Homo sapiens: one gene and its partners. The protein of the gene in region 1 purifies or fractionates together with the protein of each later gene. This does not show direct contact. Each region holds a gene or a part of one and is shown on either strand. Other genes may lie near its edges.

What was found. Proteins that work in one complex are often made in the same cells at the same time.
Region 2: the proteins of APLF (region 1) and MACROH2A2 purify together in Homo sapiens (affinity purification with mass spectrometry; 3 studies listed by BioGRID and IntAct, with this or other methods). This does not show direct contact.
Region 3: the proteins of APLF (region 1) and TDP1 purify together in Homo sapiens (affinity purification with mass spectrometry; 3 studies listed by BioGRID and IntAct, with this or other methods). This does not show direct contact.
Region 4: the proteins of APLF (region 1) and UTP18 purify together in Homo sapiens (co-immunoprecipitation; one large-scale study listed by IntAct). This does not show direct contact.

What each region holds. Positions count from the first base shown.
Region 1 is NC_000002.12:68,474,085-68,477,584, reverse strand, and holds part of APLF (aprataxin and PNK-like factor), read right to left. Parts: intron 1-3,500. UniProt on the Homo sapiens protein: Histone chaperone involved in single-strand and double-strand DNA break repair.
Region 2 is NC_000010.11:70,090,846-70,094,345, reverse strand, and holds part of MACROH2A2 (core histone macro-H2A.2), read right to left. Parts: intron 2,590-3,500; coding exon 2,392-2,589; intron 612-2,391; coding exon 501-611; intron 1-500. UniProt on the Homo sapiens protein: Variant histone H2A which replaces conventional H2A in a subset of nucleosomes where it represses transcription. Nucleosomes wrap and compact DNA into chromatin, limiting DNA accessibility to the cellular machineries which require DNA as a template.
Region 3 is NC_000014.9:89,986,927-89,990,426, forward strand, and holds part of TDP1 (tyrosyl-DNA phosphodiesterase 1), read left to right. Parts: intron 1-1,978; coding exon 1,979-2,164; intron 2,165-2,790; coding exon 2,791-2,839; intron 2,840-3,500. UniProt on the Homo sapiens protein: DNA repair enzyme that can remove a variety of covalent adducts from DNA through hydrolysis of a 3'-phosphodiester bond, giving rise to DNA with a free 3' phosphate.
Region 4 is NC_000017.11:51,294,990-51,298,433, reverse strand, and holds the end of UTP18 (U3 small nucleolar RNA-associated protein 18 homolog), read right to left. Parts: intron 1,470-3,444; coding exon 1,445-1,469; 3' UTR 1,431-1,444; intron 653-1,430; 3' UTR 501-652; downstream 1-500. UniProt on the Homo sapiens protein: Part of the small subunit (SSU) processome, first precursor of the small eukaryotic ribosomal subunit.

The DNA of each region.
Region 1 (3,500 bases):
CACTGCTGCCTCAATCTCCCAGGCTCAAGTGAGGTTCCCACCTCAGCCTCCGAGTAGCTGGGATTACAGGCATGTACCACCATGCCTAGCTAATTTTTTTTTTAATTTACTTTTTGTAGAGATGGAGTCCCATTATGTTGTCCAGGCTGATCTTGAATTCCAGGCTCAAGCTGTCCTCCCACCTCAGCCTCCCAAAGTGCTAGGATTACAGGCATGAGCCACCACACCCAGCTGAGATCTGTTTTTATTATGATATACAATTTACTGGAGAGTTGAACTGCTCATGCTGAGATGATTCACATCACACGTTGTCGTAAGCAGATACCTGCAACAGTAAAGCTCACCAAAACAGCAACAAGAAGTGGCTAGAAATTATTACAGAAGTACAGTATGTATTACAGTGAATTTTATGCTTTACATTTGTCTACATATCTCTCAACTGCAAATGGCACTATGTACACTCTGTGTTTGTGTGTGTATGTTTTGATAAATTTTACCTTTTTATAATAGATTTGAGTATATTTTATGGTAGTAAATGATAAAATAGACTACTACCTACATATATTTCATTTATTCATGACATATCTTTTTAATTTTTCAATGTTTTTTAAATATAGAGTTTGTGAGGTTTTTCAAATTGTCACAAATCTCCCAAAAACTTTTCCAATATACTTGTTGAATCTGCATAGAAGTGGACCTATGCCGTTCAAAACCCATGTTGTTCAGGGTTAACTGTATTCACAAAATTGTGCAACCATCACTTCTATTTCCAGGATGTATTCATCACTCCAAAAGGAAACCTCATACCCATTAGGACTTTGGGTTTTAAGTGTGACAGTAAGCCACTGGAAGGTTGTACTGAAAATACTATTCAGAATATTAATAATAAAATTTATAGTATAATATTAATTAAAAATCAGTGGTAACTATTGCACAATATATACACTGAATAAAATATATATACCTATGTACACAGATTAAATACATGAAAGAACTACATTGAATGTTTACAGTGCTTATCTCTTGGTAATTGACTTCGAAGTGCTTATTTTGTCTTCCTGCTTACTTGATTTTGGTGAAATTCCTACTTTTTTTTTTTTTTTTTTTTGAGTCTCACTCTGTTGCCCAGGCTGGAGTGCAATGGCACAATCTCAGCTCATTGCAATCTCTGCCTCCCAGGTTCAAACGATTTTCCTGCCTCCGCCTCCCAAGTAGCTGAGATTACAGGTGTGCACCACCACAGCCGGCTGTTTGTATTTTTGGTACAGACAGGGTTTCACCATGTTGATCAGGCTGGTCTCAAACTCCTGACCTCAGGTGATCTGCCCGTCTCGGCCTCCCAAAGTGCTGGGATTACAGGCGAAAGTCCTACATTTTCTACATTGAGTATATAATCTTGCAAAATTGGGAAAGAGCATAATACACACAAAAAACATTACTTTACACAATACTTCACAATTTACAGTGCTTTCCCAAAAGATTATCTAGTTTGCTGTATCAACAACAGACAAAAATAGACAAATTCAAATTTTCATGGTAGAGAAAAACAGAAAGTCATCTAGTATAGGATTTGAGCCAGTATTATGGTGAAATGCATAAACCTAAAAAAAAAAGCATGGGATCTATTTTAGACATAATTTCATTAGATTATTTCCTTCTACTTTTGTGGAGCAGAGGGTAAGTAAAATATATATATATATATAAAAGACTTAAACTGAATCCAGACTGGTTACTATAAAGAAATCTACAAATCATAAAATTGTCTTATCTAGATATCTTCCCAGTGCCAAGTCCAGCATGCATTCCAGAGCTCAGTCATCTATGCTGAGACTCTGCCATAATATTTGATAAGAGGTCGGTCTTATTCTTCAACAGAGCAAAAGTAGTTGATATAAGATGTTTGACATTATCGTATTTGGAATGTACAAAGTCCAACTTCTGATGTTAAGAAGGGGCAATTATGAAGAAATAGACTTGATTTTGCCCAGAGACTCCCCATAAACACTTCAATTCAGAAATCAAGTTCTCTTTAAAAGGTTAATATATTTGATGTGAAATGTTCTTTGGAACTTGTGAATATGCTTTCCCATAAGAATAATGGTGTAAATGGTAGGTTATCAGGCAACCTCACAAACACCTAATTCACAATACTGATTAATATGCATCACTTTAGATTTTAAAAAGCAAATCCAATGCTTTTTGAGCTCTAATTCAAGGCTGGTGAATTGTTAGCCAATATGATGAAATTGTGCTGACTATCATGATGTCACTGAAATTTCAACTCATCCAACCTGTTTGGCTTGCAATGCTGCTTACATAGTGAATGCTGCACAAGTGTGAGAACATCATCCTCATCATTAATATATGATGACAGAGGCAACATAGTAAGTAAAGACATAAGGAAAGCTTAAGAAGACAAAAGTGGGTTTAAAGCACCACTTGGGACTTTGGAAAATTAATGTGTCTAAGTAGTTATTTTGCTTATTCAGTTCGGTTCAGCAGACATTTCTTAAAGACCTATTCTGTGCCAAGTACTCTACTTAGTGTGTCTAGAAGTAGTTTTTAACTCTGGCTTTGCAATACAATCATCTTCAGAGCTTTTAAAAATACAGATACTACCCAGGCGCGGAGGCTCACGCCTGTAATCTCAACACTTTGGGAGGCTGAGGCAGGCAGATCACCTAAGGTCAGGAGTTCGAGACCAGCCTGATCAACATAGAGAAACCGTGTCTCTATTAAAAATACAAAATCAGCCGGTTGTGGTGGCACATGCCTATAATTCCAGCTACTCAGGAGGCTGAGGCAGGAGAATCTCTTGAACCCAGAAGGCAGAGGTTGTGGTGAGCCAAGATCGCACCATTGAACTCCAGCCTGGGCAACAAGAACAAAACTCCATCTCAAAAAAATACAGATACCCAGACACTACCTACAGAACCAAATTACCAAAGAAAGGAACTCATACAAAAGTATGAAGACATGTGAGAAGATAGCATATTCATGGTAAGTAGTAAATGGGGGATGAAAATTTGAAGGCATTAATTCAGGGGAAGATATATATAATTGTAAAATATAGTCTTTGTCCCTGTTGCCTGGCATAACCACTAAAATCCTCAGAATCTCCCAAGTGATGTCTTTTTGTATGCTAATGAGTTAAGTGACATCTAGCAGCCCCTAGATAGCTTCAGGGTGGGAGCTAGTCACTGGAAAGACCAAGGTATAGAGAATTGGGACTTTCAGCCCCAAGCCCCAGCCTCCTCTAGGGAGACGAGAGGGGCTAAAGGTTAGCTGATCACTAATGCCCAATGGTTTAATCAATCATGACTAAATAACGATGACTCCATAAAAACCCAAAGGGGACAGGGTTAGGAAAGCTTCCAAACAGGTGAACATGTAGAGGTTTCTGGAGGGTGGCACACTTGGTGAGAGCATGGAAGCTCAGTATCCCTTCCCATAGCTTACCCTATGCATCTCCTCATCTGTATCCTTTGTCATATCCCTTA
Region 2 (3,500 bases), on another chromosome or scaffold:
TTTGTTTACTTTCTAAAGCCTAGGAAGGCAGGCAGACTGAATTATTGGCAAATAATTCATTTCTAATACCAAGGATATTTGGGAAACATATATTTCTATTTTCTTTCTTTGATAAATTACATTGAACCATGTAAGATGGGCCTCTCAGAAGCTGTCTGAGAAAGTTAGCTATGGATTTTTTTTTTGGCAGATGTAGAAATAACTGGGGTGTGGGGAATTCCCAGCAAAACCAGTAATGCCATCCTATCTACTGACCAGAAAGAGCTTCCATGCTCACCCTTGTCTGACCAATGTTAGCGTTAACAATTCTCAGCAAAAAAGAACAATTCTCACTCTCACAATGCTGACACTGCCACAGCTCTTTAGTTTAAAAATGAATAATTCAAGACTGCAGTGAAAATCATTATCAGGGGAGGAAAGGAGGCATCATTGCTTGTAAACAGTAGGTTATAAAAATACAGTGGTGTTTTAATATAGCACAAGGCAATTCTCTTTGTTACCTTCTGTCCCAGAACAAGGCTCTTAGAAGACAGAATGGTGAATCCATCCCCTGGCCCATCTTCAGAGGTGGAATTTGAAGTTCCTTCTTTATCGCTGTCCTTTGGTTTGGACTGTCGGTAAAAATCAAAAGGCAAGATGAGAACCAATCCAGAAAAAGCCTGAGGTGCCTTTATTAAGCTCTTCTCACGGCTGCCACCAAGTTGAATATGAAAGGAAGTGGTTAGGTGATGTGTTCTGCTGTTTCTTGAAGGAGGGGAGCAAAAGTCAGCAATATAAGGAAAGAAAAGGGTACCGCAAAATAGCAAAATAGAAAGTGTGTTAAAGGGCTCACACATACCTGCAGTCCTCACCTACCCCTGTGCACCAGCACATTGTCCTTGCTCATTTCAATGCCTGCAGCTCACGACGACAAGCATCGGAGCTGGGTGGGGCCGTTGATAGCCCATTGCTTAGCCTTCTTTCTCCCCAGGATTTCTCGGGGCACAGAGGCAGTGTGGAATGAAACATCCACAACTTCTACAGTAGGGTTGTCCAATAGAACTTTCTGTGATCGTGGAAATATTCATCTTGATCCTCAATAATGTTGCTGAGTGCTTGAAATGTGGCTGGTACAATCAAGGAGCTGAATTTTAAATTTGATTTAGTTTTAATTCAAATCCAAATAGCCTTGGCTTGTGTGCCTTAGCTCACACTTATAATTCCAATGCTTTGGGAGGCTGAGGCAGGAGGGTCGCTTGAGCCCAGGAGTTTGAGGCTACAGTGAGCTATGATCTCGCCACTGCATTACTGTACTCCAGCCTGGGTGACAGAGTGAGACCCCTGTCTCTTAAAAAAAAAAAGCCACATGTGACCAGTGGTTACTGTACTGGGCAACATAGGAAAACATTATTCTATCAGTGGCATCTCTGAGCTAAGCTACCTAGTATATCAAGCTAACCCAAACACCTAGTATATCAAGTATATGCCAAACACCTGAAATTCCACTGGCGGAACTCAGGGAATGCCTGCAGGAGACTAGAGGCTGTTTGGAAGGCAACACAGAGCTCTGCAGAGAAATAAAATGCAGGTTCCTGGCTATCATCGCTCACTTCAGATTTTGCTGGGGGTAGTAAAAGGGATCTGAAAACCATCCCTGCTTAGGGTTTGGAAACCTAGAGAAGACCCATTTCAGCTCTAACCTCAAAGGCCCTTTATTCTTTTACCTGTACATTCTTGTCATTTTCTTCCGGCACCAAGCTGCAAGAGTCCTCGGTCCTTCAGAGGTGTCTGCTACGAAGTCATTGTCTCATCTTTAAACTTCCCTCCTGTTCTGTGAGCGTCTTAGTGTCTGCCTGGGCTGCTCTAACAAAATGCTATAGACTGGCTGGCTCACAAACAACAGAAACCACTTTCTTTTTTTTTTGTTTGTTTAAGAGACAGGGTCTTGCGCTGTCACCGAGGCTCGAGTGCAGTGGTGCCATCATGGCTCACTGCAGCCTCTAACTCCTAGGCTCAAGCCATCCTCCTGCCTCGGCCTCCCAAAGTGTTGGGATTACAGGCATGAGCCACTGTGCCTGGCCCAGAAACTTGTTTCTCATAGTTCCGGAGGCAGGAAGTCCTTGGCGCAGGCAGGTTCTGTGTCTGGCAAGGGCTCACTTCCTGGTAGATGACGCTTTCTAGCTGTGTCCTCACATGGCAGAAGGGTCCCTCTGCCTCCCTCAGGCCTCTTTTATAAGGGGACTGTTCCCATTCGTGAGGACTCGCCCTCATGATCTAGTTATCTCTCAAAGCCCACACCTTGTAATCCTATGCCTCTGGGGTTAGGTTTCAACATATGAATTGTGGGGGAACACAGACATTCAGACCATTGCAGTGGGAGTGCCTGGCCCAGGACACGCAGCCTCGGCCTACCTTTTTGGACGTCCGTGGTTTGGCAGCCTTGGATTTCTTCCCCCCCTTCTTGCCTGACGTGGCCTTCCTGCCTCTTTTCTCTGGGGGTGGGGAGAGGATCGTTTCCGACTTGCCTTTGGTCCCTCGCTTTTTGGCCAGCAGTTCGGGGTGAATTCTGGGCAGGACGCCTCCACTGGCGATGGTCACTCCTTTTAGCAGCTGAAGAGAGAAATGCATGCGCTCATGTAGCAAACAGCCTGCTAGTTCCCAATTTCATACAGTTCTTTTTTTTTTTTTTTTTTGATACAGAATCTTACTCTGTCACCCAGGCTGGAGTGCAGTGGCGCGATCTTGGCTCACTGCAGCCTCCGCCTCCAGGTTCAAGCAATTCTCTTACCTCAGCCTCCTGAGCAGCTGGGATTACAGGCACCTGCCACCACCCCGGCTAATTTTTGTATTTTTAGTAGAGACAGGGTTTCACCACGTTGGCCAGGCTGGTCTCGAACGGCTGACCTCAGGTGATCCACCTGCCTTGGCCTCCCAAAGTGCTGGGATTACAGGCGTGGGCCACTGTGCCTGGCCTGGACTTAATACGGTTCTAACTGTTAAATGTGGCCTCCGCTTTCCTAAAGAAACTGCGTAATACACCATTTAATTGGCTTTTCCCACTTTCAGTTGTAGAGCATTTCTCCGTAGGTTAACAAGGCATCCTGTGATGTTGTACAGAAAGCAAAACGAAGTAAAGCAAAATAGAAGGGACACAGAAGTTGAAACCAGGGATGTTGCCCAGGGCTCTGGAATTCCAGACACAACACAGGATAAAAAGCTTCCCATGTGGGGAGCGCAGCTTGAGAAAATGATGTTCAAAGGTCATTGCAAAGACTAGACCCAGTTAATGATGAACCAGTGGTCTCCACAAGCTTGCACATACATTCCATCAGTAAAGTATGTCTGGCCATGCTCCTCCCAATCAATATAAGTTAATTTATCTGCAAAGAACAGACACGTACTACTCCACTAATATATTCTGCAGATTCGAAACCAACACTACCCCAAGCATGGTCTGCGACCATGGCTCACCCATGAACTGGTAGTTACCCGTCAGTGACAACAGAAGTATAGCAAGCATC
Region 3 (3,500 bases), on another chromosome or scaffold:
CATTCAGTACATATTTAAGTGGATACAGTTTCCAAATGTTTTCTTAATTGTTTCTGCAGCTTTGCATAATTATCAAAGCAGGAAATGCAGATCAGTCTTCTGCAGTGTTTTAGCTGGTATGTGTATGTAAATATTCTCTTTTATGTTTAGACCATCACAGCTGCCTGGAGCTCAAGTGTTAAACTATGACTGTTAAGCCTCTTTCAAATGATAGGAGTCAAAATATGTAATCCTTCTAGGTATTGTTTAAGTGTTGGTAGCAAAAAACTCACTTTGTTTCCTCTGCTCTCACACTACAACAGTCAACACAGAAAACTGTGACCAAATATGTGTGGGGTTTTCCTCATACACTAAGCAGGGGACACCAGCTGGGTGTCCTCTAATTCACTTCAGTTCTTATGCTGTCTTCCTGGAGATGTATAAAGAAAGTGACTTTAAAGAAAGTGATGATATAAAGAAAGTGATGGTATAAAAAAAGTTATTTTTTATTCCAAAGCTGGCTTAGAGGAATAAGTACAGGCTTCCTGTCTTAAGGATACTGCTTTGCTCTTGGAGCAGAAAGTGGACACTTTTAAAAGGGGCCTAGCATGAATGGCACGCAGAGGAGGAAGCAAGCAGGTGGATACTTCCTTACTTTCTGCCTTCTCTACCAGGCAGTCCATTTGGTCTCTTCCTGGGCAGAACTAGGTTGTAAAGATGGCTGAAACTCTCCAGGTGGGAGAGTTTCTTAGTGGGCATACTTTGGGTTGTAAATTTACTGCTGTCCCTCGAGGCAGTCCCCTGGTGGGAGAAAGTTCTGCTCTGGAGCTTCTAAGCACATAGATGAACTTGCCCTGTAGGGAGTGTCTAGTAAAGGAAAGGTAAAAGGTTATATTGTATTTCTAAAGGTCTAAGTAGGAAGTGGGGAAGGAGTTGGGGAATAGTAGGGAAAAAATAATTGAAAAAATACATTTTTTTTAAAGAAATATGGGGGTAGCCTCAGATCCCATAGATTGAGGGCTCCATCCCACAAGACTGCCCCTCTCCCTCAGACACCAGTTGCAAGTCTGGGCCTCCAGAACTTCTGACTGACCAGCTTCAAGTTGAGGTTCCCATGACCCTCTCTTTGGGCTTCATTTGCTAGAGCAGCTCGCTGAACTCAGGGAAACACTTAACATTTACTGCTTTATTATAAAGGATACAGATGAAGAGATGCATAGAGCAAGGTATAGGGGAAGGGGCACAGAGCTTTCATGCCCTCTCTGGATGCACCACCACTGTCCAGCAGCCCGCAGGTGTTCAGCTGTCGGAAAGCTCCCTAAACCCTGTCCTTTTGGGTTTTTAATGGAGGCTTCATTACATAGGCATGGTTGATTACATCACTGGCCATTGCTGATCAGCTCAACCTTTAGCCCCTCCTATCCCTGGAGGATGGGGGGTTGTGCCAAAAGTCCCAATCTTCTAATCATGCCTTGGTCTTTATCGTGACCAGCCCCCATCCTGAAGTTGCCTAGGGTCTGCCAGCCATCAGTCTCATTAACATACAGAAAGACTTCACATTGGAGATCCCAAGGATTTTAGTAGTTGCATGCCAGGAAACAGGGATGAAGACCAAATACATATTTCATAGCATCAAAGCTGCATTAAACACTTGTGATTTCAAGTAAAAAAAATCTAATTTCATATGACAAGTTGGTGGTTTATCTGAAATTTCTTCTGAAATGGGCCTTTTTAAACCTGTTTTTGCTTTTAGTACAAATCAAATAATTTTGGAAAGGAGAACTTCTGTCCATCTACTCCATTAAAAATATGTTTTTAGTATTTAAAAAAAATTTCCCAAAGAAGAAGTATGTATGTGTGGGTATGAAATTGATCACTAGTATTTTCAGCTTTTCTTGTTAATTAGGCTTTCCAAGAGCAGAAAACTGTTTTCAAATATTGCAGCATTTCTGTTAAGATTATTTGAGTCACTTTAACATTCACTTTTATTCTTTCCCAGCTTCTGAAAGACCATGCCTCATCCATGCCTAACGCAGAGTCCTGGCCTGTCGTAGGTCAGTTTTCAAGCGTTGGCTCCTTGGGAGCCGATGAATCAAAGTGGTTATGTTCTGAGTTTAAAGAGAGCATGCTGACACTGGGGAAGGAAAGCAAGACTCCAGGAAAAAGCTCTGTTCCTCTTTACTTGGTGAGTTCTCGTCCTCATTGAGGTAGTTTACTTTTATTCTCTACACAGGAGAAGAATTGAAAATTGGTCCTCTTTGTAATGGAGAGATGTTTTATTCTGTGATTCTTTTTTTTTTTTTGGCGTGGCGGGGGCGGGGTGCGGAAAGAGCAGTACATTAGCATCGTCATTTGTAATCAAGTTGCCTTTGCCTTAATATCCAGTGCTAAGAGCTTGCCGATTCGTTCAGGAGCTCCATTGCAGACACAGACTGGCCTGTGATTTTTCTATCCTTTCTTTCAGGTTGTTGAACCAAGGTAGAAAATATTTGATGTAGCACAGCCAGCAGAATTATGGGCATTTTAATTATTTAGAGAACTGTGAATTAATAATTAATTTTCCATTCAATGTTAACTTGAATTTCAAAGGAAAAAATACTCCAATTGAAGTATAATTTTACATCAAATATGGTTCCTGTTGTTTAATTACTAGTTCATTTTTTTCATAAGATGAGAACTTTTAAAAATTTAAAGCATATTTTCTAATTTAAAAGTATTTTTAACAGATTTTCATTTCCTTAAAAGCTGATTATCATTCCTTTTCTTCAACATGGTACATTCCGAGTTTTATTGTTTTCCTCTTATTTTTAGATCTATCCTTCTGTGGAAAATGTGCGGACCAGTTTAGAAGGATATCCTGGTAATTCTTGGGGAGACTGTCTTGATTGTGTTTTATGTATATTTCATGAATGTCCTGGTAAAGTTTTACTACTATTGCGTAGAAATTTGGAGATGGTTTTCACTTAACTATATAAGGATCATGAAAATAGGCAATATGAAGCTCTGCATTCCGCAGATGATACCCTTCAGTTTGGGTGTGTTATTAATCCTTACAGAAACCCTCTGCACAATAGTTTTCATTTTTACCAGTAAGGTAACCAGCAGGTTGGTTGTCCAGACAAGATAGCCAAATAAAATCAGCTTCCCCTTACTCTTCAATGCGTTTTCAGAGCTTATCCAACATACCTTCCTCTCATCTCTGCATATCCTCCCTTCCTGTGTTTGAGGTACCATGTGGTCCTTTTAAATGCCTGCTATAGATAACATTTAAGGTCCGGAATTTTTAAAATTTTGCCTTTGGTATAACTTTGTTGATATGTCTATTCTGTCAAGGGTGTCATCTGCAAATGCCTAAGATTTTTTGTAGGCATCTGTCAACGCTGTCCCTTTCCCTTATACTCATACCAGGCACTAAACCTTTATTTAGAATTCAGCAGCCCCGCTAGTTAGTGTAATCAGGAGATGTTAACTGAAAACCCACATAGTGGTTGTCTCTGGAAAAAGCAAAGTCTAATTGGCAT
Region 4 (3,444 bases), on another chromosome or scaffold:
GCCAGCTGCCAACCTTGAAATACAAATTAAACATTTAAGTTGGCATAATGAACATTTCCAGGAAGGGCAGTGGCTAATAATCTGTAGGACAAGGCTACCAGGTTTACTATGGCTCCTCTTCAAATGACAATGACAAAGATTTGAAGTAATAAGGCCAGAAAAGCCTTTTCATTTCCAAAATCATCTTTCCTGGAAGACTTGGAAGTTCAAACTTCACTACGTGAGATTTCACTGCTCTCATATCAAGCCGACTGACCTCCATAGCTCAAGAGACTACCTGTTAGCTGATCCCCTAAAGCATGGAGGATCGATTCAGGAAGGGGGATCTATTCAGGAAGAGATCTATGCATCAGGGTTAGCTGTATGAGAAGTATGAGAAAATCTGCTTATATTATTTTTGGCTACAGACAGGTGTTTCCAATTTCTCATGTTTAGTCTTAAATGCATCCAAGTTTGTGTGTGTGTGTGTTGGGGGTGGAGGGAAGAACCAGATACACTTATTTTCAAACAAAAGCTGCCACATGTTTATTAAGACATTACTGGCTCTTAAGCACAGCTGGATCTATAAATCATTTTCCATATATTATCACATATTCAGGAAAGTTTCTGAGATGATATATCAAGACAGGCTTCTCTTGTGACTCAACTGGACCTGAGGAAAGAACAAAAGAAATTACATACCTGATTTATAGCTGCTGGTCATCAACAGACACGTACTGGCAATGTAATCTTTTGAGACAGGAGAGCTAAACTGCTTTCCCCTCCTTGCTAAAGCTTTGCCCAAAATGCCTGTACCTTTAAAAATCCTTTGTCCTAATTAAATCTATCTGCATTCTCAAAGTCCCTCAACATTCATTAATCTCTGAGGAGACCAAACAGTCAACTGTGATGAAGAGGCCAATTGCAAAGCTCAATCTCAGAACCACCACATCTCAGGCCTGAAAGGACACCATGAGAAGGGAAGGATGTTCTATGGTTTTAAATATTGGGCAGCAGAACTAATGGCCAGCCCCATTATCTAGCTCTGTGAAACAGAGCAAGCTGCTAATCTCTCAAGAAACATATATATAATAAGAGGATTCAAGCTCATACAAGCTATAGCTATATCTGAAGACCCATCTCTCTGTGTTATTAAGTCTTTTGTGGATTAAACATGTTCAGTAATTACAATTTTGATGAGAATTATTGAATGCAACATTAGAGATCAGACCTCAGAAGAACCGAGCCAGATTGCTGTGATTTGGGATAAGAAAGGAGGGTCCAACTTCAGCTAGACAGTTCCTGATCTACTTCCAACCCACCCCTCTAAATAAAGATGCAGTAACTTAGGGGTAGAGAAACAAAGCTCAGCTAATGTGCTGCTTCCACCAACTGACAGCAATGGGTGTATCTTAAAACCTGCAGAATTTGTAAGAAAAGGGTTTTCTTACTTCAAATAGTCTCTTTAGAAGTCTGAGTAATGGTGCAACCTGGAAAAGTAAAAAATAAGTCATCTGAACAACTTTGTAATTACCCACAGTGTTTTCAATTAGATCACAGAAGGGCACTTAGGAAGATTTTAGTGGGAAAAATATGTAATCACAATCATTCACACCAGGCAGTTAGGTTCAGACTCCTCAATCTGACATTCTGGAGGATCTGAACGCCTCAGATTTTAGGTAACATGAGTAGGCTTACTCCAAAGTTTCACATGGGGGGTCTATGAAATACCTGATCAGACATAAACAATAAAAATGTCATCAGTCAATTCCAGTCACTGGTATAGCTAGAAACAGTGTCATTCTAAAGAGCAATGCTCTGGTGGAAAATCTAATGGCCTTTGGGTCTTAGAGAAAAAAAAATTTCACTTATAAAAATACCAAAGGATTTGGAAGAAAATTCTAAGTGCAATAAGAATCTGCATCCTTTTATAAAATACAAACTGAAACAGAACCACTCCAAATCTGATCTGAAATGAGACTGATGAAATTATCCTGGTATAACCTGTTTTCCTTTCAAAGTAAGTAGAACTGTAAACCACATTATTGTCTGGTATATTCTCCTTTCACAACTATTTCCTCAAAACCAATTTACATTCCTCCTTTTCTTCACTCCAGATTTTAGTCCGTTTTGAAAGCAGGAATTCCCTAAAGCATACAAACATAAACACAGGGTTCTATGTAGCATTCACTACCAACACAAGGAGCAAGGCAAGAGGGCTGTGATTTACATCACAAGTTTTCTACTGAAAGCTCTTTAGTTCTCCCTAAAGATCCACCTTGTCACCTATATCTTCTAGCAATGATGCAATTAGGTTTTGTTTGTTCCTGTTTTATAGCCAAGTATGTTGGGTACAGAAAAGAACCTGGACAGCGCATATAAGTTTTGGTTATCTTTGTGGTTAACACCCTTATTTACAGCTTACAGCTACAGGGAAAGAAACACCTTTTAAAAAGAAATCAATTAAATCTAGTGGAGTAAACTGAATTATTAAATCAGCAAAAGCTAATCTAAACATAAGGCACGAAGAAAGTGGAAATATTATTAAAGTGGCTTTTTCTCAATTTGACATTCTCAAAATAGTGCTTTCCAAAAAATATATATATTCCCCAGGTGAAGTTTCCTGCTAGTGACATTTTATGGTAGAAAATTACCCAAAGTACTGCCCAAGGTTATTTATAGATTCAATGCCATCCCCATCAAGCTACCAATGACTTTCTTCACAGAATTGGAAAAAACTACTTTAAAGTTCATATGGAACCAAAAAAGAGCCCGCATAGCCAAGTCAATCCTAAGCCAAAAGAACAAAGCTGGAGGCATCATGCTACCTGACTTCAAACTATACTACAAGGCTACAGTAACCAAAACAGCAGGGTACTGGTACCAAAACAGAGATATAGACCAATGGAACAGAACAGAGGCCTCAGAAATAATGCTGCATATCTACAACCATCTGATCTTTGACAAACCTGACAAAAACAAAAAATGGGGAAAGGATTGCCTATTTAATAAATGGTGCTGGGAAAACTGGCTAGCCATATGTAGAAAGCTGAAACTGGGTCCCTTCCTTACACCTTATACAAAAATTAATTCAAGATGGATTAAAGACTTACATGTTAGACCTAAAACCATAAAAACCCTAGAAGAAAACCTAGGCAATACCATTCAGGACATAGGCATGGGCAAGGACTTCATGTCTAAAACACCAAAAGCAATGGCAACAAAAGCCAAAATTGACAAATGGGATCTAATTAAACTAAAGAGTTTCTGCACAGCAAAAGAAACTACCATCAGAGTAAACAGGCAACCTACAAAATGGGAGAAAATTGTCGCAACCTACTCATCTGACAAAGGGCTAATATCCACAATCTACAATGAACTCAAACAAATTTACAAGAAAAAAACAACCCCATCAAAAAGTGGGCGAAGGATATGAACAGACACTTCTCAAAAGAAGACATTTAT